4 linked regions of the Homo sapiens genome follow. The protein of the gene in region 2 interacts with the protein of the main gene of each other region in a pairwise test. Each region holds a gene or a part of one and is shown on either strand. Other genes may lie near its edges.

Region 1 (7,025 bases), on a different chromosome or scaffold from region 2:
AGGTTGGTGCAAAATTAATTGCTGTCTCTGCCATTGAAAGTAGTGGCGAAAACTGCAATCGCCTTTGCACCAACCTAATATGTACTGATATAGAATAATTTCTAAGATACTTTAAGTACCAAAGCACGGGGGGGGCAATACATATTTATTTATAAATATATAAACTATTTCTGGAAAGAGGAATAAGAAACTAGAAACAAGAGAACTGGATAATTAAGACACAGGAGAAAATGAGACTTTATAGTCTGTAGGAAATCTTTTGAATTGTATTTCATTTGCAGGCATCGTATGTTCAAAATAAATACATTTTTGTATACAAGTTGGTGAAGGGACCTGTTTAAAAAAAAAGACATTTCCAGCCAGGCGTGGTGGCTCACGCCTGTAATCCTAGCACTTTGGGAGGCCAAGGCATGCGGATTACCTGAGGTCAGGAGTTCAAGACCAGCCTGACCAACATGGTGAAACCCCATCTCTACTAAAAATACAAAAAAAATTAGCCAGGCCTGGTGGCGGGTACCTGTAATCCCAGCTACTCGAGGCAGGAGAATCGCTTGAACCCAGGAGGAGGAAGTTGTGGTGAGCTGAGATCGCACCACTGCACTCCAGCCTGGGCTACAGAGCGAGACTTCATCTCAACAAAAAAAAAAAAAAAAAAAAGATGTTTCCACGTGACAGCTGTATTTCCTCTGGTTAGAGGCAGTGGAGTGGTGATTAGAAAGGCTGGGAAGGAAGGATGGGCTCAGATTTCTGATCATCACCGCTCACACTGAGACCTGACTCTCCACAGCAACAGGCGGAGGTGGCCCACATGTCCCAGACCCAGGAGGAGAAGCTGGCAGCTGCCCTCAGGGTGGAGTTACACAACACTTCGTGCCAAGTCCAGAGCCTCCAGGCTGAGACAGAATCCTTACGTGCCCTGGTAAGTGGGCCAAGGAAAGACCTGGTGTCCTTGTGCTAATTTTAACTCTCTACTGTCAAATTCCAGTATTATGGATCTTAGTTTCCAGGGGATTCCCATCTCACAGCATATGAGTTTTGAGGCCTGAAATGTCTTCTGACTCCCAAGGATCATCAGATACTGAATCACAGCAGGTGCAATAGACACTGTAGTGCCCCACGGAAATATCTCTTACCAGGCTGCTGCAGTAAATGTTGACTGTTAACATCTGCAGCCGCCCCTTTTCAGCTGCCCCACTGCTCCAGAGACCTGCCCTTACCCACACTGAGGACACCTGGCCCAGAAGGTTAGGCCCTGCCCCCCAAGGCTCAGCCAGTGACTAAGAGGGGGCTTTAAAATTAAAAGCCCAGCCCTTTTGCTTCAACATGGAGCTAGCTCCATGCTATAGAGCTCTCCATAGGACCAGGCTGTAGCCAGATTCCAGAGACCACATCCTCGCTTAGTGCCTTCCTCTGCCCTGTCCTGCTTTCCTCACTCCCCCTTTTCCTGAGAGTACTCCTTAATGATTTGCGAGTTCCAGGATCCCTAACTCAGGCTCTGCTTCTGGAGAACCCAACCTGAGACATCTAGTAAGCTCTCAGACTCACTGGGATTTGCAAGCTCGTCTCTTTCATTATTAATTATTTATTAAAATATTAAAATAATAAAATGTATTAATAATGAAGCAATCCACCCTCTGATCTCTGGAATGGATTGAAGTTCTATTTGGGTATTAAACATCTTTTCTTAGATGTCCCCTCCAGGAGGTCATTTGCATTGTTCTAACTACAGCTTCGTTGGTGCAAATCAAAGGTTGGTCCATGTAATCCTTGTGCAGCTGAGATGGCCTGGAGTCAATGAGGCGCATGATAGGATGTAGGTCCGTGCAAGCATGTATAAGAAAAGGATCTGAGGATCTGAGGGGAGGAAAATCAAGAGTAATAGAGTCAGAAGGGCTCAGCTCCTCCATTTATCCCTTGGGTAAAGAGGCAAATCCCTGAACCACAGTTTCCTCTTCTGCAAAATGGGTATGATAGTCACAGTCCAGCCCACTTCTCAGTGTTTCTAGGGGGATCCAATGTGTGGATGCACATGAGCATGCTCTTCTGACTCTTAGCATTATTTTGAGAACTTGCTATGTTCCTAGAACTGTACCAAGTGCTTTGGAGACATAAAACTAATGAGATATGGTCCCTGCCTCCAAAGAGTTAATGTGGCTTCGGTGGAGGAGCTGATACAAATGTGAGGGAGGGGCAGATGGGAGAGAGCACCCCTGCTGTGGGAGTCAGGAGGTAGACTTCGTGGTGGGTGCTCTCCTCACTCACTAGCTATGTGAATGAACAGCTTTCATTTTCTCACTTGTAAAGTGAGGATCTATTTTGGCTATCATATCTAGTTACTGTCTTAGTAGCTTAAGACAACAGTGAATCACTTGTTCTCTCATTCTGTGATTTAGGCAGAATTCAGCAGGGATAACTCTTCTCTGTATCATGTGGCCTCTGCTGGGGCTGGAACACCCAAAAATGGCTTCTTCATTTAGCTTCTCTGGTGACTCAATTGTGCATCTCTTTTTCTCTCTCCCTGTGACCACTCCGTGTAGCTAGCTTAGACCTCCTCATATCATGACAGCCTGACATAGTCAAACTTCTGATATAGCACCTGAGTGAGCACAGAAGCTACCAGGCCTCTTAACACCTGGGCTCGAAAGTCTCTGGACATCACTTATACCACATTCTAGTGGTCAAAGCAGTCACAAGACTATCCTAGATTCAACAGGGAGAGAAATAAATTCAACTTCTTGATGAGACAATGGCAAGGTCACATTGAGAAAGCGATTGTGGAGTGGAGATAATTGTTGTAGCTGCCAATGCAAGTGTGAGCCACTTTAGGATCGTAATAGAATTTACCTCATAACGTCATTGAGATGATTAATTTGATAATGTATGTCAAGCCCTTAGCACAGTGCCTGGCAGTTAGTGAGCAGTCAATAAATGCCATCTATTATTAATTATCATATAAAATTGCTATAATAGCTACTAGTACAGTAACTCCAAGTTGGCATCACCAGCCACCTGGTCACCTCACTTAAACCCAGGGTCCTAACCATTGGGGAAAAAAATGGAAAAATAATTTACACTCTCAACCAGAAAACTTCAGAGTAGTGCCATTCTGTCTATGCCCATAGCCCAGAACAGGCTGCCTCTGTTCCCTGCTGGTTCTAGTAGATTATCGTTCTGGTCACGGGGCCTTGCAGCCAAGGTGAGGAGCACAGATTGGGACAAAATAGGTAACAAACTCTCATACAGTTTTCAGATACAGGAAGTTCATCCAGCCATTCCTGTTATTCTGTCAGAGCGATCTGTGCACACACAAGGCCCCCGCAGCTTATATAAGCTTCAGACAGCCAAGCTGGCGAGACTTTCGGCCCCCTTTGCCAATAAGGCACTATTTGCATTGGAAGCTAGGCACAAATAATGGTGCTTGAGACCTGCTGAACTCTGTGTCCAGTCAACTCAAATCAGGAATGGAATTCAAGGCCAGAAGTCACAGAAGGTCACTATTTTACTTTCTGGAGGATTTTGCAATCCCAGAAAGTCCCTTCAAATCTCCAGAGACCTGCAGAATAAGTGTGCTTCTGTGATCTCAGCTTGTTTGCTGGTGCTGTCTGCGTGGCTGACTGAGCCAGTGTACTTGCCTGCAACAGTAGCCTGATCATAGTCACTCCAGCTCAAGCATCTCTGGGAGAACCAGGCATCCTCTCTTTCTGCCATAATGTCAGGGACTTAGGTGGGGAAGCTGGATTCGGACTTTAAGGGTGAGATGGAAGACACATATAACCTTTGGCTGGGGTTCCAATGAATGCCCTGTTGGCAGTGGGTCCTAAGTCACCATGGAAAAACCTCAGGCCACATGAAGAACTCACCTAGAAGATGGAGCAAAAACTATAGACAGATGATCCAACCGTGATTCTGTGAAGCGTGTTCCCAAATCACAGATGTTACAAATCCAATGTCAACAACAACTAGTCACAAGTTAAGTACTTTCATGCATAAACAAAGAGAGAAAACCCAGGGAGGTTGGAACAAATGATGCTCAAAGTCAAGGTGGCCATTTCTGCATCCTCACTGCTATAGAAAGGTTTCCAGATTCTATTAGTTAAATAATAACCCTAGACCAGATACTGATCTAGATTTATTTTCTAGTGATCACGTTTTGCCTCTTATAAATATGCCTCAGACAGATGAGAATCTGACTCAACATTCTCATATCCTATGGAATTAAGAAGATTTAAATAAGGTAATATGGTGATCCATGCTAACAGCAGTCATGATTCAAGATGGTGTCGTGACAGAATTTTCTGTTTCATCCATAGTGGTCATAAGGGTGTAAAAAGTCTCCTCCTGGAGGACAGGGTACAGAAACTTGTTGCATCAAAATTTAATTCAATCCAATTTAGAAAGATATTTGTTTTTTGTGTGTTATATTAAAAAGCCAGATGCTAAAGTATAGGTGAACCATAGTTAAAACTATTGGAAAATGTTGAACACAGATACAGTTTTTTAAAGGGGTTTATTGATTAGCTCTGTAGTTTTCAGGACATGGTGCATGGGAAGATGAGAAGAAAGAAGTTTCCAGTCTAATGGGGAGACATAGATAGTGCAATAAGTGTAACCATAATACAAGTGCTATCATCCAGGGCAATCTACACATACCAAGAACCTATTCTGTGCCAGGCCCTGACTTGTGTGCTGGGACTACAGAGACTTGGTTCCTTCCAAGTCTCACCATCTGGTGGAAAAGACGTGCCCATAAGCAAGCTTAGCCCACTGTGATAAGTTCAAGAGCATGCATGAGCTTGGGGAGCCATGGAAATACAGAGGGTCTCCTAACCCAGCTTGGTGATGGTAGCGGCAGAGGAGTTTCAAGGAAGGCTTCCTGGGGCAGGTTACCTCTAAGCTTGGACTTGGGGATGAGTAGGAGTGAGTGAGGTGAGGATGCTGGAAGGAATGGAGGAGCATGGTGCAGGTGGAGGAAAGAACACAGACCAAATAAACTCCAAGACTGGAAGTGTTGATGCTGCTGTAGGGTGGGGATAAAGATGGAAACATACTGGGCCAGCTGTGTGTGCCATATCAGGGGCCCTGGGGAGCCATCAATGGAGTTTAAGCAGAGGAGATACAGGCCCAGGTTTGGGCTTTGGACAGAGTACTGTGGCTATTTGTGTGTGGAACTCAGGAAGAGGAGGAACTAGAGGTGGGGAGATGAGCTAAGAGGCCACTGAGGGTACCACAGGTGAGAGGTGACAAGCTCCCAATCCCAGACCATGGTGGCTGCAGAATGTGAAAACTTCTCAAGAGATACAAGAAGCAGGACTCATAATATACAGGAGGCCATGATGGTTGCATTTGGAAGGAAGAGAAGGAAGGAAAGCAGGAACACATCTTTCCCTGGTTTCCAGCTCACATGGGTTCACCCGTTGAAGCATAGACTAGGGGGAGCCAGCAGGTTCAGGAGGCAGCCAGTGGCTTCATTTTGGACACCTTGATGTGAGGTCTGAGTATATGTTTCCAGTAAGAAGTTCAGTGGCAGGTCCATAGCTACTGAAGGAAAGATTGGTGGTGGAATTATCAACGCAGGACGTGGCCTGGAGACGACTCATGAGTATGTTCAAATCATGAGTATGATGGAGACCAACACAGACCCAGGATGCGCTCCTTGGAAAAAAAGCGGGCTCAGGGTGGGCACTGGGAAGCCCAAAGTGAAGGGACGGCAGAGGAAAAGGGATGGGCAAAAATGTGCTACTAAAACACCAAAGGGGAAAGCGCTGAGTATATAAAGGCCAGAGACATTCATTCTAAGGACAGTGATCTGGGAAAGAAAGCTGGAGGAGATGGTGTTCCAGCCAAATGATGGATGGGGTTTCAGCAGCAGAGGGAGAAGGGGTCCCCCGGGGAGTGAAGAAATCAGAAGAAAAAGCCCCGGAGAACAAGATTTCTTTGAAGAAACGCCTGCAAGCTGCCTCTCATTTGTCTCTCTCAATCCCTATCCCTCTTGCCCCGCTCCTCTCTCTCCTCACACCCCCTTTCTTTTCTCCCTCCCTCTCTCCTTCTCTTTTTCGCCTCCCTCACCCTCTCTCCCATCAAAAAGATCAATCAGACTAATCCACAGTCTGACCTGAGTGGGATTCCTTATTTTTCCCACGGAGCCACTAAGAATAACCCCCATCAGTCTCCATAACTGGCAAGGTCCCTGCCACGAGGGGAATAGTCCAGGCTACCACCAGCCCCTGCCACTGCTCTGCACACCTCCCTCTTCAAGGGCCCGGCCTGTTGTCCTCGGGTTTGGACCGGGTTCGCTCTTTTGTAGAAACGAGGCCTGGAGAACACCTTGCACGATGCCAAGCACTGGCATGACATGGAGCTCCAGAACCTGGGCGCTGTGGTCGGCCGGCTGGAGGCGGAGCTCAGGGAAATCCGAGCGGAGGCGGAGCAGCAGCAACAGGAGCGCGCGCATCTGCTGGCCCGCAAGTGCCAGCTGCAGAAGGACGTGGCGTCCTACCACGCCCTGCTGGACAGGGAGGAGAGCGGGTAAGCCTCGCTTCCGCGTCAATTATCCAAGAGATGCATATTCATGGCTTTAAAAATAATTATTTTCCAAACACTGTAGAAGTATTTAAGAAGAAATCACCCCAGACTTCCTCTCACATAGGCACCCATTCCCACAGCCTAGCTGTGTCCTTCCTTTCCTATTCACATACAAATAATATATATAATATATTCACATACTAATACATTTTCTATATGTATGCATATTTATGTATGTATATATACACACATACATTCACATACATGTGTATACCTAGGACGTACATAATAGCTGTTAGGAATGTTTCAGTTGCTTGTAATAGAACCTAATTAATGAGGCTATAAACCAGTGCTCCTGAAACTAATGTGCACTCAAAACCCTGCGCATCTTTTTTTTTTTTTTGGATACAGGGTCTCGTCTCGGTATGTTGCCCAGGCTGGTCTCGACTCAAACCCCTGGGCTCAAGTGATCCTCTCACCTAAGCCTCCAGAATAGCTGGGGT
Region 2 (7,025 bases):
TTTGGCAGTAACACTCATCCTGATGTTTTTGTCTGTGCACAAATATATATACATGTGTAAATGCCTGTTTTAAAAGCAAATTAGCATGGTATTCAGTGTTAAAGTATCACATTAAATGAACACAAAAGTTTTTAAATAACAAGAGAGGACGGAAAGAGTCATAGGGAATCCCAATTAATGGATGTGCCGTAATTTACTAACCCAATTTCACATAATTAGACATTTCACTTGTGTCATAGCATTTGGACTACTTGCCTGACTTAACTATAGGATAAAATCCTAGGGTTGGCATTTGCTGAGCAGAGACTTCTGATGGAAACTTGAGCCACTGAGTTGTAAAGAATTTTTCATGGTTTTAAAAATAGCCTAGTTTGCTGCTATTCTCATTTCTAAACTGGTGTCTTTCCAGCTGTCAATACCAATCTGATGTTTATTATCCCCTCACTTACTGTCATGAAGGAATGAGGCATTAGCCTCCCATCCACATATCTATCACCACTTCCGTCAGTATCCCAGTGGATGATCCACAGCACCCTCGGACCTCTCTGTTCCTTGACTCCACGCCAACTCACAGACATATGCAGACTAAAGCTTTGCCCATGTCTCATGGCTCCCAGCTCTGTTTCTTATGCCTTGCAAAGACGACCAACACAACAGCCGGTACAAATAGATTCAAATGTTTACGATAATGTGTTGTATGACACAAGTGGCATTTCAATAAAAAGGGGCAATGTGGATTATACAATTAATGTTGAGGGACAACTGAGTAGCCAGTAGTGAAACAAGATGTGGATCCTTCTCTCAGTCCTGCACATGAAAAGCAAACCCAGGCTGGCTGTATGTTTAGATATAAATAAATGAATGACTTTCAGAAGAAAAGCTAAGTGAATACTTGTGTAAATTATGTCTTAGAATTAGCCTAAGGATACTTCCTGAACCCAGAAGCCACATGGACAAGATGGACATATTTATAGTATGTAAAAATTAAGCAGATAGAGGAGGAGGGGAGCAAGATGGAGAAATGGGACTCTCCAGTGATTGTCCTCCTGCAGAAACATCAATGTGAAAAACTATCCTTGTATGAAAATATCGTCACTTGACATAAAGAAACCAGGTGAGAGACCATGGTACCCGGTTATAGCATGAAAATAAGAAAACATGCACTGAAGAGGGTAGTAAGGACAGTTTTACATTACCCACATCACCCCTTCCCCGACCTTCAACAGCAAAGCATAAATAGAGATACCATCCATCCAGAGGAGAGAGACAGTAGCAAGCATAGGACATTGCCTAGGAACCCAATATCAGGCCACCACTTGACAGATGCCCATGGCCCCTGACTCTCAGATGGTACTTGTGGACAGAGTCTCTAGACCCACCCTGGCACCAGACAGGAAGCCACAGCCACAGCAAAACAAACTCAATATCTGGCCCACATCTCTCCCTAGTGATTCCAGTGGCCTTATGCTCAGAATAATCTACAGCAACAGGGAGTTCTCAGTGAATGGAGGCTTGGATTCCAGTCTCACAAGGGACCAGCCTCAATAGCTAGGGGAATCCCAGCCATCCTAGCACCTGCCGCTGTGTCCCTGTGAATAGGCATCCCCCTAGTGCTTCAATAGCTGTAGTGTTCACAAGCATAAGGACCAAAAGAGACCTATATAGAGTTTCTGGACAGGCTTACTGCTAAAGGATGTCCCCTAAAAGCTAGACTGCAAAGACCGAAATGGATACCTACTTCTTCAATACGCAGATATAAACACATTACCACAAAGATCAAACACAATAAGGAAAACATGACATCACCAAACTGACAAAACAAGGTGCCAGCAATTGACCCTAGAGAGACAGGAATATATGAGTTGTTTAACAAATAATTCAAAATATCTATTTTCCACATGCTCTGTGAACCTTGAAAACAATTACAGAGAAATGATTCAGGATTTATCAAAGTAAGTTGCAGGAAAGATTGAAAGAATTGTTAAAAACCAAGCAAATCCAGAAGTTGAAAAATACAGTGAAGGAAGTACACGATAGAGAACATCCAAAGAAGAATTGATTGAGCAAAAGAAAGAATCTGTAAACTTGGAGACAGGTTCATTGAAAATATACAGTCAGAGGAGACAAAATTAAAAGGAAGGACACGGAATGAAAAAAAACTAGATTTCTGGGACAATATCAGAAGAGCAATAGTATGAGTCATTCACATTCAAGAGGGAGGAGTGAAAAAGAGGTAAAAAGATCATTTAAAAAATAATAATGGAGAGCCATCCAAACCCAGAGAAAGTTACAAACGTCTAGGTACTGGAAGACCAAAGTTCTGCATTCAGATACAATCCAAATAAGATTACCCCATGACATATTAAAATCAAACTGTCAAAGATGAAAAATAAAGAAAGAATCCTGAGAGCAGTAAGAGGAAAGAAGCAAATCACATATAAGGCAGTTCCAATATGCCTACCAGAAGACTTCTCAGCAGAAGCATAATAGGCCAGGAGAGAGTAGTATAGTATACTTTAGGAACACAAGGAAAAAAATCTCTAAGCAAGAATAATGTACCCAGCAGTGAAGGGGAGATAAAGACTTTTACAGAGAAATCACAGCTGAGAAATTTCCTCACCACCGCAACTGTCTTACAAGAAATGCTAGGGAGAGTTCTTCCAACTGACGTAAGGGACGCTAATGAGTAATGCAAAAACATCTGAAGGTATAAAACTCACCAGTAAAGGTAACGACACAAATTCAGAATACTCTAATAAGGTAATGGTGGTTTCCAGATCACTTATATCTTTCATGTAAAGGTTAAAGAACTGAACTAGTAAAAATAAAATAAGTACAATAATTTGTTAAGGGATACAAAATATAAAAAATTGTAAAGTGTGAAATAGAAAACTCAAAATCCCAGGGTGGAGTTAAATAGTAAAGTGTTTGTATTTTGTGATCAAAGTTATGTTATCAGTAAAATAATCTGCCGTGATTATGTTTCCGTAAGCCTCATGCTATCCACAAAGAAAAACATCCTGTAATAGACACACTAAAACAAATACAAACAAAACCACAAAACACACTAATAGAGAAAAATCTCTTATCCATCAATGAAAACAGTAAAAGAGAAAGAAAGGAAGAAATTACCTACAAAATAGATAGAAAAAAATTATCTAAATGACAACAATAAATCCTTACCTATCAATAATTACCTTGATAGGAATGGATGACATCCCCCAATTAAAATGCACAGAGTAGCTGAATACATTTAAAAAGCAACAACAAAAACAATCAAACCTATGAGAGACCCACTTCTCCTTAAAGGGCATTCGTAAACTGAAAGTGAAGACATGAAAAAAGATATTCTTCCATGTAAAGGGAAACCAAAAGAGAGCAGGAGCTGCTAAACTGATTTCAAATAAAATAGAGTTTAAATCACAAACTGTAAAAAGAGACCAAGATCATTATAGAATGATGAAGGGGTCAATTCATCAAGAGGATATAATGATTTCCAAAAATATGCACCCAACATAGCAGCACCTAAATATATGAAGCAGACATTAAGGTATAAATGGTGAGATAGAGTGCAATGCAGTAATAGTAGGGGACTTCAACACCCAACTTGCAGCAATGAACAGATTGTCCCGACAGAACATTGACCCCACAAAAAGTGGGATTTATCTGCACTCCGGACCAAATGGACCTGACAGTCATTTACAGAACATTCCATCCAAATACTCCAAAACACATATTCTTTCCAACTGCATGTGGAACATTCTCGAGGATAGATTATGGGGCAGGTCATAAAACAGGTACTAGCAAATTAAGGGAATTTGAAATAACATCAAATCAGTTCTCTAACCACAACGGTAAAGTATTAGAAATCAATAAAAGTAGGAACTTTGGAAACTTTAGAAGTGGATGGAAATTAAACAACATGCTCCTAAATAACCAATGGGTCAATGAAGAAATTAGAAGCAAAGTGTAAACATTTCTTGAGTTGAAGCAAAATGAAGGCACAACATACGAAAACCCATGAAATACAGCAAAAGCAATTCTAAAAGTGAAGTTTACATCAATAAAACCTACCTCAAAAGAAAAGATACATCTTAAATAAACAACCTCACACTGCACCTTGGGGAACTAGAAAAACAAGAAAAAAATGCAATGCAAAATTAGGACAGAAATCATAAAGGTCAGAGCAGAAATAAATGAATAGAAATGAGAAGAACAATACAAATATCAATGAAACAATGACTTGGTTTCTTGAAGAGGTAAAGCAAATCAACAAAACTTTAGCTAGACTAAGGAAAAAAGAGAGAAGATTCAAATAACTAAAATCAAAGATGAAAAAGGACACAGCACAAATGACATCACCAAAACAAAACGTATCATAAGGAAGATTATGAACAATCATCTGCCTACAAATAGGACAAGCTAGAAGAAATGGCTACATTCCTGGACACATACAACCTACCGAGATGTAATGGTGAAGAAATGGAAAATCTGAACAGACCATTAATGAGTAAGGAAAGTGATTCAGTAATAAAAAATCCCCCATCAGTGAAGAGTCCAAGACAGAATGACTTCCCTTCCTAATACTACCAAATTTATATATAAAGAAGAATAATTAATAGCTATACTTTTAAACCTATTCCAAAAAAAAAAAAAAAAAAAAAAAAAAAACGGACAAGAGACGAACACTTCCGAACTCATTCTGTCACAACGCATTACCCTGGTAGAAAACCCAGATGAGGAAACAGAAAGAAGAGAAAACCAAAAAAAACTACATGCCAAAATTCCTGATCAACACAGTTGCAAAATCTTTAACAAAGTATTAGTAAAGCAATTTCCACAGCACATTAAAAAAATCATTCACCATGTTCTAGAGGACTTCATCCCTGGGATGCAGGGAAGTTTCAACATACACAAATCAATAAATGTGCTATATCACGTGAAAAGAATGAAGGAAAAAAGCCATAGGTTCATTCCAATTTCAGCAGGAAAAGCATTTGATTGAATTCCACACCTCTTCGTGACTAAAAACTCCACAAATTAGGTATAAGAGGAGTGCACCTCAACACAATAAAGGTCATATATGATAAACCCACAGATAACATCATACTGAATGGGGAAGTGTTGCAGGCTTTTCCTCTAAGACCTGGAACAGGACAGAAATGCCCACTTTTGCCCTTTCTATCGCACATAGTTCTGGAAGTGCTAACCAGAGAAATTAGGCAAGAAGAAACAAAAGGCATCTAAATTCAAAAGGAAGAATTTAGATTGGCCCTGTTTGCAGACGGGAAGCTGTTACTTATAAATAACCCTGAAGACACCACCAAACAGCTACTAGGTCTAATAAACAAATTCAGGAAAGTGGCATGAGACACAACCAACATACAAGAATCAGTAGTATCTCTATACACCAATAGGGAACTATCTGGAAAAGATATCAAGAAACAATCCCATTTACAACACCTTCAAAAAAATTAAAATAGGAATAAATTTAACCAAGGAGGTGAAGGATTGCAACACTGAAAACTATAAACCATTGACGAAGCAAATTGAAGGAGGCAGGAATGAATGGAAATATATCATGTGTTCATGAACAGGAAGAATAAAATATTGTTAAAATGTCCGTAACCTAAAGCAATCTATAGATTCAATGCAACTGCTATGAAAATACCAATGACATTCTTCTTGGAAATAGAAGAAATACTCCTAAAATTTGTATGGAACCATGAAAGATTCCAGACAGCTGAAGCAGTCTGGAATACAAGGAACAAAGCTGGAGGCATCACACTATGATGTCAAAACATATGACAAAGCTATAGTAAGCATAACAGCACAGTACCAGTATAAAAACGGACACATCAACCAATGGAGCAGAATACAGAGCCCGGAATTAAATCTGTGCATTTACAGTCAACTAATTTTTGACAAAAGGCCCGAGAACACACAATGTTGAGAAAGTACAGTCTCTTCAATAAATGATGTTGAAAATAACTGGATATTCATCTGAGAAAAATGAATTTCCACCCTTATCTCTCAGCGTGTATATAAATCAACTCAAAATGATTTAAAGCTTTAAAATGAAGACCCAAAGCTGTGAAACTACTAGAAGGAGACATAGGGGGAAAGCTCCATGACATTGTTCTGGGCAACGATATTTTAAAAACAGGACCTCAAAAGCAAAGGCAAGAAAAGGAAAAATACACAAATGGGATTACATTGAACTAAAAAGCTTCTGCACCACAGAGGAAACAATCAAAGAGTGGAGAGACAATCTATGCGATAGGAGAAAACATTGACAATCTATGTATCTAGTAAGGGGTCAGTTTCCAAAATGTAACTCCAACAACACAATAGCAAGAAAACAAATAATCCTATTAAAAATGAGCAAAAGACCTGAATAGACATTTCTCAAAAGGAGACATACAAATGGCTAACAGGCATGTGAAAAAACACTCACCTTCTCTAATCATCAGGGTAATGCATATCGGAACCACAGAGATACCGAGTCACGCATGTTAGAATGGCTAACATTAAAAAGACAAGATATAACAAGTGTTGGCAAGGATGTGGAGAAATTGGAAGCTTTATGCACGGTTGGTGGGATGTAAATTGTTACAGCCACCATGGAAAACAGTATGGACATTCCCCAATATTTTAACAATGGAACTATCACACTATCCATGAATCCCACTACTGAGCATGTATCCAAAGAGAGTGTCATCAGTGTGTCAAAGAGATGTCAGCACTTCCATGTTTGTTGCAGCCCTATTCACAATAGCTATGAAATGAAAGCAATCTAAGTGTCCATCTACGGATGAGTGTATAAAGGAAATGTGGTATAAATACACAAGGGAATGCTATTCAGCCATAAAACAGAACAGAATATTGCCGTTTGAAATAACCTGGATGAACCTGGAGAATGATATGTAAGTGAGATAAGCCAGTCACACAAAGACAAATACTGCACGGTCACATTCACATGCAGAAGATAAAAAAGTTGATCTCATAGCAGTGTAGAGTAGAAT
Region 3 (7,850 bases), about 32 Mb from region 2:
GAGAAGAGGCCAATAGTAGATTCAGGCACAGAGACAAAGAAGATCCTAATACTGCCTTGAAACTCAGGGCCCAGAAAGATGTTGACAGTGATAGGGTCAAACAAGAACCCAGGTTTGAGGAGGAAGTCATTATTGGGTCCTGGTTCTGGGCAGAAAAAGAGGCCAGTTTGGAGGGTGGAGCTTCAGCAATCTGTGAATCTGAGCCAGGAACTGAGGAGGGGGCCATTGGCGGATCCGCGTACTGGGCTGAGGAAAAGTCCAGTTTGGGGGCTGTGGCCAGAGAAGAGGCCAAGCCGGAGTCTGAAGAAGAGGCCATATTTGGGTCCTGGTTCTGGGACAGAGATGAGGCCTGCTTTGACCTAAATCCCTGTCCTGTGTACAAGGTCAGTGATAGGTTCAGAGATGCAGCTGAGGAGCTTAATGCATCCTCCAGGCCCCAAACCTGGGACGAGGTCACTGTTGAATTCAAACCTGGTCTTTTTCATGGGGTTGGCTTCCGATCCACAAGCCCCTTTGGAATTCCCGAAGAGGCTTCTGAAATGCTTGAGGCAAAGCCCAAGAACCTGGAACTTAGCCCAGAAGGAGAAGAGCAGGAATCTTTGCTTCAGCCTGATCAGCCTAGTCCTGAGTTCACATTTCAGTATGATCCTTCCTACCGGTCAGTCCGGGAAATTCGAGAGCATCTTAGGGCCAGGGAGAGTGCAGAGTCTGAGAGTTGGTCCTGCAGCTGCATACAATGTGAGCTGAAAATTGGTTCTGAAGAGTTTGAAGAATTCCTTTTATTAATGGACAAAATTCGGGATCCTTTTATTCATGAAATATCTAAAATTGCAATGGGTATGAGAAGTGCTTCTCAATTTACCCGAGATTTCATTCGAGATTCAGGTGTTGTCTCACTTATTGAAACCTTGCTTAATTATCCATCCTCTAGAGTTAGGACAAGTTTTTTGGAAAATATGATTCACATGGCTCCACCTTATCCAAATCTAAACATGATTGAGACATTCATATGTCAAGTGTGTGAGGAAACCCTTGCACATAGTGTGGATTCCCTTGAGCAGCTGACTGGAATAAGGATGCTTAGACACCTCACTATGACTATTGACTATCACACACTGATTGCCAACTATATGTCCGGGTTTCTCTCCTTATTAACCACAGCCAATGCGAGAACGAAGTTTCACGTTCTGAAAATGCTATTGAATTTGTCTGAAAATCCTGCTGTGGCAAAAAAACTATTCAGTGCCAAAGCTCTTTCAATATTTGTGGGTCTCTTTAACATAGAAGAGACAAATGATAATATTCAAATTGTTATTAAAATGTTTCAGAATATCAGTAACATTATAAAAAGTGGAAAGATGTCCTTAATTGATGATGATTTCAGTCTTGAGCCGCTTATTTCTGCATTTCGTGAATTTGAGGAGTTAGCTAAGCAACTACAAGCCCAAATAGACAACCAAAATGATCCTGAGGTGGGACAACAAAGTTAATATGATTAACCACCTGCCGCTGATCAGCCTTATGTTCCCAAAGAGCCCTGAGTAGTGCTTTGGTGTTCACAGTCTGTTTTTTTGTTGTAACTTATATTTTTTAATGCTGATGTTAACTTTGTCAAACTCTTGTTTTGAGCTGGATCATTTTGTGGATGCCAAATGAATATCAAAACTGAAAACACATTTGTTGATATTTGTCTTGCTGTCCAGATTGCGGTATTTTTCAGTATTAAGTTTTCAATGAACTGTGTCACCTAAGTAAGCTACCCTGCTATTCGTTGTTTAAATATATGGTTCTCTATTTGAGTCTGTGTTTTCAATAAAGTTCTATGTTAAAATTGGCATAAGTGACCCTTCTTCAGTTTAAGAACCATGTACAGATAAATCGTGTGCACTTACAAACATAGGTAATTATTAGTATGACAAACATGCGCTTATTAGAAAATTCTGTTCTTGAGTTAAGAAGGGAGAGATTATTGTGGGCCCTGATACTTGAGGAATGTTTCCGAGAAGAGGGACCCACTTAAATTGGTCAGGATAGAACAAATTGGTCAGGATAGGAGAGCAAGACAACTTGCCCGCCTGCTTGCCCAATTATGAGCCTTCCCAACAAGCAACCTAAAATTAATACTTCTTATAGGACCCATTTAAATTACCATCTTAGCCCTGGGATTTGCCTAAGGGTAGGATAAGACAAATCATTAGGTTGCTCTTGGAAGTGGGCAGTGGTGGTTTGAAGAAAAGTGTGTAATTGAATAATCTGTTCTAGTAGCATGGATGAACCCAGTCTGCTTGAAACAAGTAAAAGGAGTTTGATGAGAAATGCAGTTAGAAAGTTGGGAAGAGGCCAATTTGGGGAACAGAATAAGCCAAATCTGCATATTTAACAATTCAAAGTACAGGTGTTACTTCAATGCCACCTAAAGGCTGAAAGAGTAGGATAGCACAATTAAATGGAGTGGGGAATATGATTTCCTTTATATTCCTAGACAAAGGAAAGTGTTAAGGAAATACCATGCAGCCGTTGGAATGATTATGTATGGATAGGTTTATTGACACAAAAGGACATTAATTATTTTATATTTGGTGAAACAGAGAATGTGACATCATGTATGGAAAATTAGATTCCATTTTTAAAACATCTGTAAATGTACACAATTCCTATGCAATTTCAATATGAATTTCTAAACACAGTCTGGAATAAAATATATACCTTGTTAAAAAATGCTTAGAGACAGGCGTTGGGGAGATACAAACATTAATAAGACAAATTAAAAAATTAATATGCTTACATTTTGTGCCTTGAGTTATAGATGAGCATGCCGGAAAGGACAGAATTATATAAATGAATAAACTATAAGTGTTAAAAAATGATTAGAGATAATATCATTTAGAAAAGTTGTAAATGAATGAGCTATCAGAAAGACTAGCTTTTTATAAAACGTTTTCAAGATAAAAATTAAAATTGGCCAGGCACAGTGGCTCACACCTGTAATCCCAGCCCTTTGGGAGGCCGAAGCGGAAGGATTGCTTGAGCTCAAGAGTTCAAGGCCAGCCTGGGCAACATATTGATGCCTTGTCTCTACTAAAAATAAAAAAAATTAGCCCAGCATGGTGGCACGCACTTGTCCTAGCTACTCAGGAGGCTGAGGTAGGAGAATCACTTGAGCCTAGGAAGTTGAGGCTGCAGTCAGTCATAGTCACACCACTGCACTCCAGCATGGGTGATGTGAGTGAGACCTTGTCTCAAAAAAAATAAAATAAAATAAAATAATCAAGGGTGGGCCAGGCGCGGTGGCTCACGCTTGTAATCCCAGCACTTTGGGAGGCTGAGGTGGGTGGATCACTTGAGGTCAGGAGTTCGAGACCAGCCTGGCCAACATAGCGAAATGCTGTCTCTAGTAAAAATACAAAAACTTAGCCAGGCATGGTGGTGTGCGCCTGTAATCCCAGCTACTGGGGAGGCTGAGGCAGGAGAGTCGCTTGAGCCTGGGGGGCAGAAGTTGCAGTCAGCTGAGGTCGCACCACTGCACTACAGCCTGGGTGACAGAGCAGAACTCCGTCTCAAAAAAAAAAAAAATTACCAAGGGTGTTAAGTTTAATATTAGTCTGTTCATGGTACAAAAATGGCACCTTTTTCACATAATTATTACCGTAAAAAACATAACATTTCCTTTTGAGGTGACAACAAAGTTCTGGAGCTAGATAGTGGTGATGGTTGTACAACATTGATAATGTACTGGGTTGTATACTTTAAAATGGTTAAAATGTTAAATTTTATGTTATGTGTATTTTGCCACGATAATTTAAAAAATGACCACACAATACCTTCAGTCAGGAGAATTGGAAGACAGGGCTATATGTTGGTTTGGAGAGGAAATTCAGACGTACGAGAAATATCCAATGTTTTATTATTTTTAGACATAACATTTATTTGTCTGAGAATGTTCTAAATTTTCAAAGGTAAAATTACAATTCATGTAAATGTAAAAAGAATATGTGAAAGATTTTTCAACACAATCAACAACTGCTAGGATTAAGAAAACAGTTGAAGGGTATATGTGTATATACAATATACACAATATGAAGATATAAACAAAACATTGAATTTCATAAACACATAGGAAATTAATAAATGTTAGAATAACACTGCCAGGTTAAATATAAAACGGGTTAATATCTTACAGGGCAATAAATTGTAACATTTAAGGTTTTCTATTGCACTGGACATAAATCATTTACATATTTATTGAATAAAATATCTACATGTTAACATCAGTGTCTACAGAGTTGAAAAATAGGTAAATCAATAGACATCCTGCACTGCCCTGAAATGACATCCAGTAACTGAAGGTGACTTTATCTAAGTTTGGTATAATTTTTCTGACAGTGCAACATGCTTTTTTTCCCCACCTGATCCTAGTTTGGTAAGGTAATATGGAAGTGGCAGTTTTGCCTCCCATCGCAAGCCATAAGTTTTAACAGGGATTATCCTGGTGGTGCAAATTGGAGTTTGAATGTTTGTTTTGCTTACCAGCATTTTTCAAGACAGATCTGTGTGTGTTTTAGTATGTCGCTTGAGTCGTATACAAAATATTAAAAATCACTTCATTTCCCAAATCCTCATCGAATGTTCCTCGCCAGCCGAGTGGTCCTCCAGAGCAAAGGCCAGCCTTCCTTCCAGCTGTCTGGCCAAGGAGCTTCAGGATCTTCTAGCAAGCACCCCAGAGGCAGAAGACTGTCATCCATGGTACAGGACTGCGGCGAACAAGCTGACTGCGCAGTCACGTGGGGCTGACGGTGGGTCATGTGACCAGGCTCTGCATTAGGCCTGCCGAGAGGAGTGTTTTCTTGCATCCAGAAAAGACCTGAGAGGCGGACGACACCTGTGCTCCGCAGAGCAGAACGTGGGAGGAACGGCGGGATGTTAAGGTAGGTAGGTGTCTTTCCATGCTGCATCAGCCTGAAAACTAATTTCTCAGGCGACTGGAACTACAGCATTTGTTGGTAAAGGAAACAATCCGTCAGCCAACCGGGAGCGTCTTAGCCCGTCTGTCTTTTGTCCAGGAGCTCAAGAAGCAGAGAGTCTACCTGCCCGACGCGTTCGTGGAGAGGAGCAGCGGTTGCTGTTGGAGGAGGTGGGTGCAAGGACGGCAGATGGCATCCCTGAGAGGTGGTGACTGAGACTAGATGCGGGTGCAGGTAATGCCTCAGATCCGCCTGCTCCCTCCTGCCTTTTGAACACCCTTGACCCCTCATCCCAAGGCTCCCAGCCCAGTGCCCTGTGTTTGTATGTGTGGGTGGGGGAGGTGGGCATATGGATGGAGTTGGCTTCAGGGGAGCCCAGAGCGGGGAAATGGTGAAGTGACAATTCGTGAACACCTGTGGTGCTGGATCAGGAAAGGCAGGGGTGGGGATGGGAACCGTGAGCTATGCGTCCGCACTCATTCTACTCTCTGTCTTCTTACTGGCAGTATTCAGGCAGTGGGGATGGCTGATACCAGCTCAAAACTGGCGGAGGGTGGAGGAGGGCAGAAGAGAACACATACATCTGCCTTTTGCTCCAAGGCTCCAGCTGGCTGGGGATGCAAGAGAGGAATGAACCTCAATCCCGGCAGTTCTAGGAAAAGGAGGAGGAGACATAGACTCGAGGGGAGGAAACCTAGATGCTGTGGGCCCTTCACCTAGGATTTCTCATTAGGATACTCCAAGCTTCTCGACCCCCAAGGGGATTCCTGGATCTCAGCCCCATGCAGCAGGATCTCATTCCCATTGAGGGACACAAAGTGGGTTGCTACTCCGTGTGAGCTCTCTCTCCCTGCTGTCTTGGGCCTCAGAGGAGGGTCTTTCTGGGGACCACCTACAGAAACTGCTTCATGGATAGTCTCCTAAGTTTCCCTCTGCATACCCTTTGCTCTCTTGTGTTGTGATCTCTGCTCATTCCTTAGGATGTGTTTCTTTGGTCCCATCCTAGGTAGCAGCCCCATGGTAAGTCCTTGTCCTCTTTCACATCGAGTATCCTCCTTTCCCCCTACCCCATGCACCCACTGGGTACCAAGTGAAAGAAAATGGTTCCTCTACCCACAATACTTCTGGCACAGAATGTGTGGATTTTTCACACCAAGCAATTCTCTTATTCTTTGAGGACATCAGCTAGGTATTCTACAATTTAATTCAATTCTGATACTACCCAGAGTTAGTGCAGACCTCTCTGGTTAAGGGCTCATTCCCATAAGACTGCCCTCCCTCACTTCAGACAACAGTCACAAGTAATGGATCTCCATGTCACCCACACTTCTGTCTGACTTAGCTACTAGTTGGAAGTTCCCACAACCCCCTCCTCAGGTTCAATAATTTGCTATAAGGGCCCACAGAACTCAGGGAAACACTACTTCCTATTACTGGTTCATTATAAAGGATATAAATCAAAAGCCAGATGAAGAGGTACATATGGCAAGGTCCAGAAGGGTCCCAAATGCAGAAGCTGCCATCCATGTGGATTTGGGGTACACCACCTTCCCAGAATATGAATGAGTTCACCAACCTGGAACCTCTCAGACATTTGGGATTTTTATAGAGGTTTCATTACATAGGCGTGATTGATGAAATCATTGACCATTGGTGATTAGCTCAATCTTCAGCCCCTCTCTTCTCCTTGGAGGTCAAGGGGTGAGGCTGAAAGTTCCAACCCTCTAATCATGCCTTGGTCTTTCTGGTGACCATCCATATCTTGAAGCTATCTAGTGCACCCACCAGTCATCTCGGAACATAAAAAAAGACACCTATCACTCCAGAGATTCCAAGGGTCTTAGTGTCAAGAACTTGAGACTAAAGCCACATGTAACAAAAGATGCTTCCGTTATCCCTATCAGGAAATAGCAAGGGTTCTAGGAGCTCTATGCCAGGAATATGGGACAAAGAATTATGGTTACCAAAGGCTGGAAAGGGTATTGGGGATGGGGTATAAAAAGGAGTTGGTTAATGGGTACAACAATACAGTTAGAAGGAATATGATCTAGTGTTCAGTAGCACAATAGGGTGCCTATAGTTAACAATAGTTATTATATATTTCAGTATAATTAGAAGAATAGATTTGGAATGTCCTCAGTGCAACAAAATGATAAATATTTAAGGTGATGTATATCTCAATTACATTACACATTCTATGCTTATATCAAAATATAATTTATACCCCATAAATATGTACAAATATTGCATATCCATGTGAATTAAAAATTTTAAAAAATTTTAAAAATAACTCATTTCAAATTTCAATCAAAATAAAAAAGATCAAATGCTGATTTCTTCATATATCACAATACATACAAAGTCAGTGTAAGAAAGTGTTGCTAGGAAGAAATGACTTTTTCTAATCCCACTCCTATCCTTATGTTTATACCAAGTTTATAGAGTTGAAACTATGTTGTTCTACTACTTTAAGCCCTCCTATTTAGACTTAAAAGCTAGGATAGATACAAGGTATGTGGGGCAAAATCATAGGTAGAGATTAGTCCCTAGGACTGCATCCTCGTCTCCTACCCTCTCCTATTATTTTCTTCTCTTTACTCTCCAGAATTCTGATAATATAAGTACTGGGGCCAGCATTCAGCTTATGGTTTTCTACTCAAGCTGTCTTGTCTCTTGTCTCTGTGTGTTTTTTCGAGTATGTCAACAGAGAAGACTTCAAGTATGGTGTGGTATAATAGAGAATATAGCTGATCTTTATCCCTAGTTGCTGACACAGCTTCAAAAAATCTTGGAATTTCCTGTGTGACAGGAGTATCTTTGTTATGCTAATGAAGTGACTTATGGTGGGCCCCTAGATAGCTTCAGGATGGGGACTGGTCACCAGAAGGA
Region 4 (7,081 bases), on a different chromosome or scaffold from region 2:
TGAAGGTGGTGAAATTTGTCCTGCAGGTCCCTCGGGAGATCCTGGAGCTGGAGCATGAGTGTCTGACAATCAGAAGCATCATGTCCAATGTCCAGATGGCCAGAATGAATGTGATAGTTCAGACCAATGCCTTCCACTGCTCCTTTATGACTGCACTTCTAGCCAGTAGCTCTGCACAAGTTAGCTCTGTAGAAGTAAGAACTTGGGCTTAAATCATGGGCTATCTCTCCACAGCCAAGTGGAGCTCTGAGAATACAACAAGTGCTCAATAAATGCTTGCTGATTGACTGATGGATTAGCTGTGTGTGTGTGTCTTGGTCTGCCACCACCCCTGCTGCGGCCCTTTTCACCCTCTGTGTACCCTTTACTTGTTCCTTTCTTCCCTTCCCCCTTTCCTTTCCATCTTCTTCCATCTATATCTCAGCAATTAAGCATGGTGGTTCCACAGCTGGGTTTGGATCTTACTTCTGTTATCTGCTTACCATGAGAACATGGGCAAGAGCCTTCGCCTCCATGCCCCAGTTCCATCGTCTGTAGAATAGACCATCACGGAGCCTGTATCCTAGAAAGGCTTAAATGAGTTCATGAGTCTCAAGACCTTAGAATAGTTAGTCTGGCACCGACGGAGTTCCAGAGCAATTATTATTCATACAGGCTTTCCAGAATTAAAGCAGGACTGTTATGGGATGAATTGTGTGTCCCACCCCCACCAAAAGATGTGGCCATTGTAACCCCCAGTGCCTGTGAATGTGACCTTGCATGGAAATAAGGTCTTTACCAATGTCATCAAGTGAAGATGAGGTCACTCGTGTGGACCCTAATCCACAATGACTAGTGTCCTTATGAAAAGGAGAGATTTCGCCGGGCGCAGTGGCTCACGCCTGTACTCCCAGCACTTTGGGAGGCCGAGGCAGGTGGATCACAAAGTCAAGAGATTGATACCATCCTGACCAACATGGTGAAACCTCATCTCTACTAAAAATACAAAAATTAGCTGGGCATGGTGGCACACACCTATAGTCCCAGCTACTCGGGAGGCTGAGGCAGGAGAACCGCTTGAACCCAGGAGGTGGAGCTTGCAGTGAGCCAAATCATGCCACTGCACTCCAGCCTGGTGACAGAGTGAAGACTCTGTCTCAAAAAAAAAAAAAAAAAAAAAAAAAAAAGGAAAGAAAAGGGGGGATTTAGGGGAGGGAGAGCATTATGACAAATACCTAATGCATGCAGGGCTTAATACCTAGGTGACGGGTTGATTGGTGCAGCAAACCAGCATGGCACATGTATACCTATGTAATAAACCTGCATGTTCAGCACATGTATCCCAGATTTGAAATAAAATTCTTTTAAAAAAGGGGGGGGGATTTAAAGACAGAGACAGGCATGTATACAGAGAGGAAACCATGTGAACATGGAAGCAGGGATTGGGGTGAGGCTCTACTGACCAAGGGCCGCCAAACTATTGCCAGCAAACCACCAGTCATCCGAAAGAAGACCTTGATAGCAGAAGGATCCTGTTCAGAATTCTGTGTTGCATTCAGTCGTAGCTTTTTTTTTTTTTTTTTTTTTTTTTTGGACAGAGTTTTGCTCTTGTTGCCCAGGCTGGAGTGCAATGGCACGATCTTGGGCTCACTGCAACCTCCGCCTCCTGGGTTTAAGCGATTCTGCTGCCTCAGCCTCCCGAGTAGCAGGGATTACAGGCATGTGCCACCATGCCGGGCTAATTTTTTTGTATTTTTAGTAGAGACGGGGTTTCTCCACGTTGGTTAGGCTGGTCTCGAACTCCTGACCTCAGGTGATCTGCCCACCTCAGCCTCCCAAATTGCTGGGATTACAGGTGTGAGCCATCGCGCCCAGCCTCGGCCATGTCTTCTTAGTCTCCTCCAATCTCGAACGGTTCCTCAATCTTTCCTTGATTTTCATGACCTTGACATTTTTGAAGCTTACAGGCCAGTTATTTTGTAAACCATCCCTCCATGTGGGTTCGTCTGACGTCTGATTATGATGAGATTCAGGAATCTTACAGAAGCGATGCTGTTCTCGTGACATCCTGTCAGGTGGTGTGAAATTCCAACTTGTCACATTACTGATGATGTCCACTTTCATTGACTAAGATGGTGTTTGCCACGTTTCTCCACTATAACGTAACTCCTTTGAAATTGGTATTTTGTAGGGAGGTATTTTGAGCTCTGTAAATATCAAACTTCTCACTTAGCTTTTTATTTATCTGAGTATGGACTCCTGGTTTCTTCTGTGGTCCTGTATAATTTGTTACTATCATTATTTATTTTGACTCTCAAACTGCCCAGTATGGCCAATGGAGCTTCTTCAAGCAGACTCCTGTGTTCTTTCCACATGTTCTCACAACACTTTGAGCAATTTCTTGCTTTAAGCATAGGACGTTTGTAGGCTCATCTTGTTCTTTTTTTGCTCTAGACATGGAATCAGCCAAATTTCCTAGGCACTCTGGTTCCATTTGGTGGAGAATGGTATATAGAAGTCAAGATTTGGATGCTAGTGGTGCTCATTCATATGGGCCATCATTGTTTCTATGTTCTCTTAGTGGAGAGAGCTAGAGAATATGTGTACAAATGTTCCTATACACACTGAAACTATGTGTTTATTTTTATCTCTCTATGTATAATTGAGATCCATGAGGACATACCAACGCCTCCAGTTATAGTCCAACACCACAGGGCTCATTCGACTTTCCTCCTTTCTGTCTTAGTAACTCCCTTTTCCAACAGTAGGAGACCTGGCCCCCATTCCCCTTACTCACTGTGTGTAGCCAATTTCCCTTTTCCTTTGCCATTTCACCCCTGTGGGGATGTCTTTCCCAGCCTAGTCTGGCTTCAACACCATACACCATGCTATTCCCATGAGTGGACATTTCTCTCTCTGCTTGGGTTATGACAACCCATGCCAGATCCCCTCTATGTGGCCTCCTTCCTAATTGCCTTACAGTGCAAACCTCCACCCCAGACAATGCCTGCATATAAATGCCCCCGCCCCACTCAGCTCATGTTCCAACACTGCACACCAAGCTGCCCATCTGTGGATTTATCCCCACCATCTCCAGCCCCAACACCCTGGGTCATGCTGCCCCTCTATGTGGACTTCTCCTCACCCCACTACCCCACTGGAATGCTGGCTCTCCACGCCAGATGGCCCCCAGCCCCCTCCTCCCCTAACCCTACCTAGTGTGGAGTCGCAAAACCCCTTTGGGCTTTGACACCACCATAACTTCACACCCTCCCTGACACCCCCACCTTGCTTTTTCCCTCTAAATCATTCAGGAAAGACAGAAGGAAAGAGATGAACAGAGGAAGAGCAAATGCCATGCTCTTAGTCACCGTGTACGCCCACTTCCTGAAGTCCATGCTTGCATCCTGCTCACTCTCACACATTCCCGACTCACCCAGGAAAACTCCCTGAGGCCAGGGGTGCTGAGCTCTCCATCTCACTGCCCAGAGGCCAGTGTTGGAGTGACCCTTCACATGCTTGTTGGAACATTGAATAAATGATGCCGTCTGCTCTAATCCTCCATTTTCTTTTCTTTTTTTTCTTTTTTTTTCTTTTTTTCGAGACAGGGTCTCACTATGTCAGCCAGGCTGGAGTACAATGGTGCAATCGTAGTTCACTGCAGCCTGGAGTGCAATGGTACAATCATAGCTCACTGCAGCCTTGAACTCCTGGGCTCAAGCAATCCTCCCATCTCTGCCTTTGGAGCAGCTGGGACTACAGGTGTGTGCCACCATGCACGGCTAATTTTTTTATTTTTTGTAAAGACAGCCTCTCCGTATGTTGCTCAGCTGGTCTCAAACTCCTGGGCTCAAGCAATCCTCCCACCTCAGCCTCCCAAAGCGCTGGGACTACAGACATGAGCACCACATCCAGCCTCTAATCCCCATTTATAAAATGCACTTTCCAATTCCACTCTGGGGATAAAGGCGTCACAGAACCTGACTCTGCATTTCCCCACCCATATCATTCAAGCCAGATGGGGAGGCAGGGACAGCTCTGGTCCCTCCCCAACCCGGGTAGAGATTTCCAGCCCAGCTGTCACAGCTCTAAGACACCGGGACCGAAGGAGAAGCCAAGAGAGGCAGGAAGAGGTGGCAAAGGAGTGCTGGAGAAGATAAGGAGGCTGAGCTCCGACAGGGAGCAGGGAGGAGGGGCCATCTTGAGACTGGTGCCCTGCGAGCTCCACCCCACCCCTCCATGCAGTTCCCCATGGGCCCCGCCTGCATCTTCTTGAGGAAAGGCATTGCTGAGAAACAGCGGGTGAGGTGGGGAGTGAGGGGGAAGGGCGGTGGGCGGGGCAAAGGGAGCAGGGGTGTGGGACAAAGAAGGGGACATGATGGTGCCACAGAACCAGGGGAACAGGTGGATAGAGCAGGAGCTGAGAAGGTATAAGAAATTCCAAGGACCCTGGTGGGGTCATGTAAGCCAGTGAGATAAATGGGTGGGGGTAAAATCAAAAGTCAGGAGCAAAGAGAAGGAGAGAAAAGGAAGAAAAATGAAAAGGGAAAGTGGGATGATGTCATTGTTGAGATTACCATCATTCTTTTCTATGGATGCTCATTGTGATAATGGTGGTGATGATGGTGGTGGTGGTGATGATAATGATGACGTTAATAACAATAGCTGCCACTTATTAAGTCATTGTTCTGTGCCCAGCCCTGTGCAAAGGGATTTGCACACCTGATGTTATTTACACCTCAGAACAACTCATGAGGTCAGTGACTTTCATTCCCATTTTACAGGTGAGGAAAGTGAAGCTCTGAGTCATGAAGTCATTTGCCTTAAGCTTACACAGTTAGTAAGTGGCAGGGTCGGCCAAGTATAGTGGCTCATGCCTGAATCGCAGCATCTTGGGAGGCAGAGGCGGGAGGATCACTTATGTCCAGGAGTTTGAGACCAGCCTGGGAAACACAAGACCCCATCTCTACTAAAAATACAAAAAAATAGCTCAGCATGGTGGCATGCATCTGCAGTCCCAGCTACTCAGGTGGCTGAGGCAGGAGGATCGCTTGAGCCCAGGAAGTGGAGGCTGCAGTGAGCCCTGATTATGCCACTGCACTCCAGCCTGGGCAACAAAGTGAGACTTTGTCTCGTTAAAAAAAAGTAAGTGGCAGGGTCGGGTTTGCTTGATTCCTGTGGGCATGCTTTTTAAAATTTTTTTATTTTTCCATATATACCAACTTGTCCAGATATGTGGGCATACTTTTCATTGTTAGGCTTTAAGATCACCAAAAAAAGAGAATAAAAAAGGCCAGGCAGTGGCTCACGCCTGTGATCCCAGCCCTTTGGGAGGCCAAAGCAGGTGGATCACGAGGTCAGGAGGTCAAGACCAGCCTGGCCAAGATGGTGAAACCCTGTCTCTATTAGAAATACAAAAATTAGCCGGGTGCAGTGGCAGGCGCCTGTAATCCCAGCTACTCGGGAGGCTGAGGCAGGAGAATCGCTTGAACCCGGGAGGCAGAGGTTGCAGTGAGCCGAGTTCGTGCCACTGCACTCCAGCTTGGGTGACAGAGCGAGACTGTGTCTCAAAAAAAAAAAAGAGAGAGAGAATGAAAAAAAGGGTGATAAGGGACCGCAAGGAGGGGATCAGATGAAAGAGAAGCTGAGGGAAAGGCTCCAGGGATAAAGGGAGATGGGAAGGCTAAAGAGACCAGAGGTCAGTAGAATTTCCTTGTTAACATGCCATGTATATGTAAGCCCAACCCTTCAGGTATGTGCAGGAGTAGGTGGGGCAGCAATAACTGGACATTCTCAGAGTGTTTAGGAACTGGTCATGCTGGCACTGACCCTCCTGCCTGAAAGCCATTGAATGCTGTTTCCATGCACAGAGATTCTAACCTTTGGCAGGAAGATTGGAGGCAGGTGAGAAAGGAGTGAATGGGGGCTAGTGTGAAGAATTCTGACTTGGGAGTCAGGAGCCCTGAATTCAAATCCCAATACTGTGTCTGACTTGCCCCATGACCTCCAGGGAGCAGGTGAATGCCTTCCTCCCTTGGGAGGGGATCTGCTGCTTGTGAGCTGTGTGACCTTGTGCAGGTTCCTTAACCTCTCTGTTCCTCAGCTTTCTCATGGGTAAGATGGAAACGAGATGTAGATCTGCATCACAGAGCAGTACTGAGGTTTAAATGAAATGATTGTGGAAACTGCCTGGCACAGAGTCACCACTCTGAATGAGTTAGCTGTGGTTGTGAAGTCTCACTTTTTTCATCTGGAGATTGGACTCCCCAGTGTTTAAGACCCCCTTTGACACAATGTGATGGGTGTTTGTCTCAGAAAGGGAGAAAAAGGGAGATTGGGATTCGTGGGTGGGAGAGAGACATCGAGAGGGGGGTGGGGAGCCAAGAACTGTGGAACAGGAGTCAGGAGATGGGAAAAGGAATGGGAGGGATGGAGGAGGAGAGAGAGAATGGAAAGAGAACCACGAGAGCGTGGGGAGGAGCTTGGGAGAACAAGGAGACCCTTTGGAGAATGGGTGACCCTCTCTCCAAATTCCCTCTCATCTGCATTCCTTTCCAGGAAAGACCACTGGGACAAGATGAGATTGAAGGTAACACCGTCTTCCCCAGTTGCTTCCACGTTGCCATCCACCCACCTGACCTGCCCTCAGTCCCTTTGTGCATTTCCGTATAAATTCCATTACATGGAATTTTTACAATCCCTCTCTCTTCCCACTCAACTGTAATTTTGTAGAACTCTTTCTCGTGGCAGTTGAAGGACTTCCCAAAGTATTTCGAAGGCATATCCATCCTCAAGTATCTCCAAGACTCAGGAGTGAAAACAAATGAGTTTCTCTCTTGGTGACTTTGAGGTTCCCCATAACTTCATCCAGGAATCTGAAGGACGCCAGTGCTCTCATTTAGTGGTCTCAGGAATGATGCCTCTTTTGCTAACACATTTCATACATCACTCCTTTTTGAATTTTTTTTTCTTTTTTGAGACAGAGTTTTGCTCTTGTTGCCAGGCTGGAGTGCAATGGCACGATCTCCTCTCACTGCTACCTCCGCCTCCCAGGTTCAAGCGATTCTTCTGCCTTGGCTGAGGCAGCCTCCCTAGTAGCTGG

The links.
Region 1: the proteins of CT55 (region 2) and BFSP2 interact in binary tests that used the Homo sapiens proteins (3 or more experiments, as listed by UniProt).
Region 3: the proteins of CT55 (region 2) and GPRASP3 interact in binary tests that used the Homo sapiens proteins (3 or more experiments, as listed by UniProt).
Region 4: the proteins of CT55 (region 2) and CABP5 interact in binary tests that used the Homo sapiens proteins (3 or more experiments, as listed by UniProt).

What each region holds. Positions count from the first base shown.
Region 1 is NC_000003.12:133,466,041-133,473,065, forward strand, and holds part of BFSP2 (phakinin), read left to right. Parts: intron 1-787; coding exon 788-919; intron 920-6,304; coding exon 6,305-6,525; coding exon of another isoform or gene 6,526-6,529; intron 6,530-7,025.
Region 2 is NC_000023.11:135,161,394-135,168,418, forward strand, and holds part of CT55 (cancer/testis antigen 55), read right to left. Parts: intron 1-7,025. UniProt on the Homo sapiens protein: Plays a role in spermatogenesis, possibly acting in the regulation of the autophagy pathway.
Region 3 is NC_000023.11:102,715,897-102,723,746, forward strand, and holds the start of GPRASP3 (G protein-coupled receptor associated sorting protein 3), read left to right. Parts: upstream 1-4,846; 5' UTR 4,847-4,929; intron 4,930-5,060; 5' UTR 5,061-5,195; intron 5,196-5,467; exon of another isoform or gene 5,468-7,850. Other genes in the region: GPRASP2 (G-protein coupled receptor-associated sorting protein 2), read left to right, coding at 1-1,490; ARMCX5-GPRASP2 (G-protein coupled receptor-associated sorting protein 2), read left to right, coding at 1-1,490. UniProt on the Homo sapiens protein: Survival and differentiation promoting protein that plays a role in the regulation of neurosynaptogenesis. Induces phosphatase PP2A activity which results in APP dephosphorylation and inhibits BACE1-mediated processing of APP.
Region 4 is NC_000019.10:48,041,060-48,048,140, reverse strand, and holds the start of CABP5 (calcium-binding protein 5), read left to right. Parts: upstream 1-4,061; 5' UTR 4,062-4,218; coding exon 4,219-4,281; intron 4,282-6,537; coding exon 6,538-6,568; intron 6,569-7,081. UniProt on the Homo sapiens protein: Inhibits calcium-dependent inactivation of L-type calcium channel and shifts voltage dependence of activation to more depolarized membrane potentials. Involved in the transmission of light signals.